Linked DNA regions of Homo sapiens. The protein of the gene in region 1 purifies or fractionates together with the protein of each later gene. This does not show direct contact. Each region holds a gene or a part of one and is shown in the gene's direction. Other genes may lie near its edges.

The links.
Region 2: the proteins of PKLR (region 1) and ARHGEF6 purify together in Homo sapiens (affinity purification with western blotting, with the first as the bait; one study listed by BioGRID). This does not show direct contact.

Annotation. Positions count from the first base shown.
Region 1 is NC_000001.11:155,288,793-155,291,438, reverse strand, and holds the end of PKLR (pyruvate kinase PKLR), read left to right. Parts: intron 1-760; coding exon 761-867; 3' UTR 868-2,146; downstream 2,147-2,646. UniProt on the Homo sapiens protein: Pyruvate kinase that catalyzes the conversion of phosphoenolpyruvate to pyruvate with the synthesis of ATP, and which plays a key role in glycolysis.
Region 2 is NC_000023.11:136,746,433-136,749,932, reverse strand, and holds part of ARHGEF6 (rho guanine nucleotide exchange factor 6), read left to right. Parts: intron 1-2,340; coding exon 2,341-2,425; intron 2,426-3,500. UniProt on the Homo sapiens protein: Acts as a RAC1 guanine nucleotide exchange factor (GEF).

The DNA of each region.
Region 1 (2,646 bases):
CTGCAATCTCTGCCTCCTGGGTTCAAGTGATTCTCCCACCTCAGCCTCCTGAGTAGCTGGGACTACAGGCATGCGCCACCACGCCTGGATAATTTTTGTATTTTTAGTAGAGACAGGGTTTCACCATGTTGGCCAGGATGGTCTCAATGTCTTGACCACGTGATCCGCCCGCCTCGGACTCCCAGAGTGCTGGGATTACAGGCGTCAGCCACCGTGCTGGCATCTCTTACACCTTTAATATACTGCAGTGGTCACATTCCCTGCATGCCACCCGTGGGACATACTTCACTGCCTCATTCCCTACAGGATGGCCTTGATGTGGTGAAAGGTGGTGGCTGGTTCTCGTTACAGGGCTGGCCTGGTCCCTCAATGACTAATTTTCTTTCTTTTCTTCTTTTATTATTATTATTATTATTATTATTATTATTATTATTATTATTATTATTATTTTGAGATGGAGTCTTGCTCTGTCCCCAGGCTGGAGTGCAGTGGTGTGATCTCGGCTCACTGCAACCTCTACCTCCTGAGTTCAAGCGATTCTCCTGCCTCAGCCTCCCTAGTAGCTGGGATTACAGGCATGCGCCACCACACCCAGCTAATTTTTGTATTTTCAGTAGAGACAAGGTTTCACCATGTTGGCCAGGCTGGTCTCAAACTCCTGACCTCAGGTGATCCTCCTGCCTTGGCTTCCCAAAGTGATGGGATTACAGGTGTGAGCCACCACACCTGTCCAATGATTTGTTTTCTTTCCCTCCCCCAGGAAAGCTCCGTGGCTTCCTCCGTGTTGGAGACCTGGTGATTGTGGTGACAGGCTGGCGACCTGGCTCCGGCTACACCAACATCATGCGGGTGCTAAGCATATCCTGAGACGCCCCTCCCTCCTCTGGCCCAGCCTACCCTTGTACCCCATCCCTTCCTCCCCAGTCTACGTTCTCCAGCCCACACCCCTCCAAAGCCCCACCTTTAAGTCCTCTCTTCTCTATTCCTGACCCTCCCTACCTGAGGCCTATCTGAGACTATAACTGTCATCTAGCCCCTTCGAGGTTGCCCCTTCCCCATCTCCATTTCACACAGGTCCTGAAAGTCTGTGTCCAATTATGCACTGGCCACCCAACAGCACCAATTGTACATTCCCTGCATCCAATCTGCTCAGCAGGCCCTAAGATGCCTTGAGTCTTTAATCCCAGTTTGGCTGGTTAATTCCATAACCCCAGGCATCCCATCCCTTGGGGTGGGGGAGAGGGGAGACAGGGCAATCTTGTCCACAGTCTCCCATTCTCATATGTAGCCCTCATGATAATCTGGGCATCTCGTGCCAGGGCAGGCTACCCCTTCATGGTGACTAACAGTTACATGAAAGTCCACGCTTTTGGGAAAACTGGGTGGGATGGATGCTGGGGAGAAGTGAGGGCTGGGCAGCTGATTTTGTCACTGTCTTCACAACCTCCGTGCTGGGCTTGTAGACCACTGTCCTGGCTGCTCTCATGCCTGCCTGATACCCTGCTTGGTCAAATCCCCGGCTGCTTCCTTCTGCACCCAGAAATTCCTTCCCACTCATGTTGTTCCCACACACAAACCAAGAGCCAAAAATGAGTGTGTCTATTTTATATTTAAACCCAGCTGTTTGGAAGCAATTATAAAACTTCTCCCACACACCAAGAACCCCAGAACTCCCCACCCAGAAGGAAAGGAGACTTAGGGTCCTGGTCCCACAGTCTTTAATGCTGTAGAGTAGGAGAGGGGACAGGCAGAGTGAGGGTGGTAAAGGACTACTCTTGTCCCTGAGAAGGCAGAGGTGCTGGCTGGCCTGCCCTTCCCCAGGCTTGGATACCTTGGGCCTTTCCCTTATTCCTGCACCAACAGCAAACTCAGAAGGAAAAAACAAAACAAAACTCTAAAGGTAAACGCGGTCCTTCTCCCTCTCTCATGTGGCTCCTCCTGCCCCTACCTGGGAGAAGGTTCAAGTATTGCGCTGATGGGTTTGGGCAAGGACCACAGAGGCTGGCATGGAGAGGCCCTGCCTCCTCCTACTCCTCCTGTCTCCTTACCTGAAAAGGAGGGGAGGGATGGATAAAGGAATGGGTAAACAAAATTAATTGGTAACACATAAAGTTAGTAAATGAATAAATACAATTAAATAAATGAATAAATAAACAAGCGAAGAAAAAAATATCACACAAGGATTCAGCCATTTGCCCCTCCACCGGGGGGGATCTAGGCTGGCATATTAATAAGGAGGTGCCAACTACCCCTTAACTTTTAGGGGGTCACGACTGGGGCAGAGGGTACAGGGAAGAGGAAGCTCGCAGTTTACAAAAAGATGGTCTACCACAGGACAGAGACTGCAGGGAACTTAGAAGTATGTTCCCACTCAGAGGGTAGACACAGAGTGTCCACAGGTGGCAGTGAGCGGGTAAAAGTGGATACCCACACTCAGGACCCAAGACATCTGCTGACAGCAATGGGGGCACAGGTGACTGGCAGTGCCTGGCTATGCTACAGGAACAGGAAGATAACCAGACCGGGCAGAACCTGCAGGATCATTGGCAGGGAAACAGAGACATCTAGTTACTTGGCAGTGATGGCAGTGGCAAGTACTTGTGCTTAGTAAAGGTGGGGTCATGGGCCTGGGCCTGCACCTGGCAG
Region 2 (3,500 bases), on another chromosome or scaffold:
ATATCATTCAATTTAGGACTTAGAAGGTATAGTGTGGTGAAGGGTGTTTGTGGTTGTATCTGATTCTCCAGCTACTCTGAAATAATAATGCTTAGGCGTTGCTTTCTCTAGCAGTTCCCAGAGGCTTCTTCCAACTCCTTCCTCTGTAGTTTCTAGTGCCTCAGAATAGGCTTGCAGCAAGAACAGTGTCCATGGATAAACTTGAGTATATTGGGGTTTTCTCAAAAGAGAACCGAGTACAGTTCAGGAAACTTCCCTCAAGCAGATGCAATGACTCTTCTTGATGCACATTTCATTTTCTGATTAGTTTATTTATTTTCAAAATCAGTCAAGTACTTGTACAAGTGAATAATACCAGTGTTGCCATGTATAGGCATTTAATAACCCTGGATAAGGAACAACTAAAACCAGAGGGAGAGGTTTTTTATCACAACTTTTGCTCTCATGCCTTATTCTGCTAATATTTAACTTCTGCTTATTATTTTAGATCTACTCATCTCTACCACACCCACCCAAAACATGTATCCACATGCACACACACATGCACACTCCCATTAGGACTGATGGGCTAAAAACAAGTGATTTTTTTTGCTTTGCTACTATTTTGGCATACATGTCATTAACATTTTCCCAGTTGATCAGTTCTAAGGGAGACTCAATAAGTCTGAAATCCCCGGAGATACTAGACACTCTCTCTAGTCTATTGCCTCTTGTTCACCCAGGCTTTGACAAACTAAAACAAAACTCTTGTCAATGTATTTCTGGAAAAGTTTGAATTTTATATTGTAGCATTCAGAAATATATTTGGAATGTGTTGTTGTTTAACTCTTTAGTAATATTAGCATTACTCTTTTACCAGAAATATATTAATGTCTCATTTTTAGATGCATCTGGGCTTTTTGGTCATTTTAACTTTGAATGCAAAATATTCATTGATTAAATGAATAAAGCAGTGAATCCTAGAATAGGCAGACTTGTGTAGGTTTGCATTTGCATGTATCTTTATTGACCCCCCAAAACGTGAAAAATTGATATTATATATTTTCACTCTAAAAACAGATTATAGGTTTTCAAGAACATGTACAAAAAAGATAGAAATTTGTCTTGATATGGTTCCCAGAAAATATGCAGCTTAAAAATGGAACAAATGGCTCTACCTAATGGGAAGACAGACCCTTTAAAATCCTATGCCCATTACCAATCATGTCCCATATGAAAAGGTACATTTTATTTCCATCACCACATTTGGGGAAAAAATGATGCAATCTGTTTTCTTTAAGAGACTTCTAGACATCCTGGAACAAAATGTTTTTAGAAGGGGCATTTCCATCCAGAAGGTGGGCATCTGGTTACCTTCAGATATGCATACTTACATTGTTGGCTGGCAAATTAATAGATTGTACCTGTGCATGAGAACACTTCTAATTTCAAATATACATATTTGAGACTCAATATATTTTAACACACTGACTACATTTCAAAGGTAACAGGTAAATTGTATTGAAAACAACATCTGATTGGTATCTTCACTGGGGACAATAGCATATCAGATTGACAGTTGACTGGTAAAGTGAAATGTATTTCCTTAATGTGTTTTTTGCCAAGAGTTGAGTAGTATTAGACAGGCCAGAGGTCATATTTGGGAAAGTCATCTAAAGCCAGGAAGAGCCCATAGGCCCAGGCAGGCAAATACTTGAATTCATGATGAGCTGAGAGGGGCAAGGTCAAACAGCAGAAACAGAACTGAAGCTGGGAGCAAAAGGCAGACCTGGGCAGAAAGTTTGGGCAACATGGAATTGGGATCCTAGGCAGTTGGGATGCAGCGGGTGGCAGTTGGGAGGAAGGAGAGCAGAGAAAAAGGCACTTTTGACAGTGACTCAACTAGGCACAGCTAATAAACTGTACAGATGCAACCATGTCAAAAAGGCTCCACCTCCTTATTTATGGACTGTCGAGGACATTATGTAGGTGATGGGCATTGATTGTAACCCATGCATATGAGCTTCCTGTAACTGGGCTGAAACTATTGATACATTCAGGCCAGAAGAGTGGGTCTGAGTATGCACTGTTTATTTCCTGGTGGGCGCTGCCTTCTCAGCTTGGCTCTCATTTCCCATTACTGCTTTGCTCTGACTCACTGATGGCCTGCCACATGTCATTAGGCGGCTCAACTGCTGCTCTCATTTCTCCCAAAGGTATATGGAGGTTTGTGTCTTGGCTTCTACACTTTTTTTTTTTTTTTTTTTTTCCGGAGAGCTGGAGGAAGTGGCCTTTTGATAGTTTTGTTTGTTGAGTTGAATACTTGTAGTGTCTTACGGTTTCAATTTTCCTTTCTCATAGATATTTGATCCTGATGACCTTTATTCAGGGGTCAATTTCTCCAAGGTACTGAGTACTCTTTTAGCTGTCAACAAAGCAACAGAAGGTAAGCCGGGCTTGTGATTTATATGTTCTGGGTGACATTTTTGAATCCATGTGTTTGTGATTACCCTAGGAGCCAACTCTGGCCAGGATTGTTCTCGTGATGCAAATTTTCCCCTTGCTCCCCCAAATACACCCCAACAAATGTCAAATGCTTGAATTTTTCATGGCTTAGGATTTAAAATATACCTATCATAGATGTTATTCTAATGCCCTTAATATAATGATAAGAACTAAGAAACTATTCCATTCAAAGCTCTGAATCACCAACTGAGTATAACAAAACAGAGAAGAAAAAGGAAAGACCAGTTCCCTTTTTCATAGAGTTTACAAAATACAGCCGTCACTTCCCTTTCCCCACTAGAGACATATTTTTCTCATTGTTTTATGTATGCCTTTGTCCATGTAAAGGAACCCCTCAGTAGCCTTGCACCAAAAATGAAATCTTGGGGTCATAGGGAGTGAAAATAATATCTTTTATTTAAATGTTTAACACCTACCACACTAGAGGTATTAAATATAAATGCTAGTAAATGTGAAGAAAATGATGATACACTTAGAATGTAGCTTCACTCCTTCCCTGGTATATTTTACCAACAGCTGAATAGTAATAATCATACTTAAAATGCTTTGAGCTCTTGCCCTGGATCTAGGCTGTCATAAGAGCCACAGGTGATCTCATCCAATCCTTGAAACAACACTGGGGGTAGGTATTATTATTATTAGGTCCATATTACAGATAAGGAAAGTCAGGCCAACAGTTGCCCAACTAGAAAGTTAGTCGCTGAGTTGGGATTCAGACCCACATCTGAATGACTACAGAGCCCTTATGCCCAAGCACGAGGCTTGCTGCTCAAACTGTTGTAGAGTCAAGAGGCTGTGTGCCCAGCATCGCCAGGTGCTACAAAAAATGTCAAAGCTATGGTCCCTGCCTTTGAGAAAATTACTGTCTATTTAAGGAGACTCAACTTACCCACGTGAAACAATTAGAGGACAAGAGCAGACAATATAATCAAGTGCCAAATAGGTTAGAGCATCTAGGAAGCTATCGAGTAATTATAGTTTTTGTCAAAAGAGCT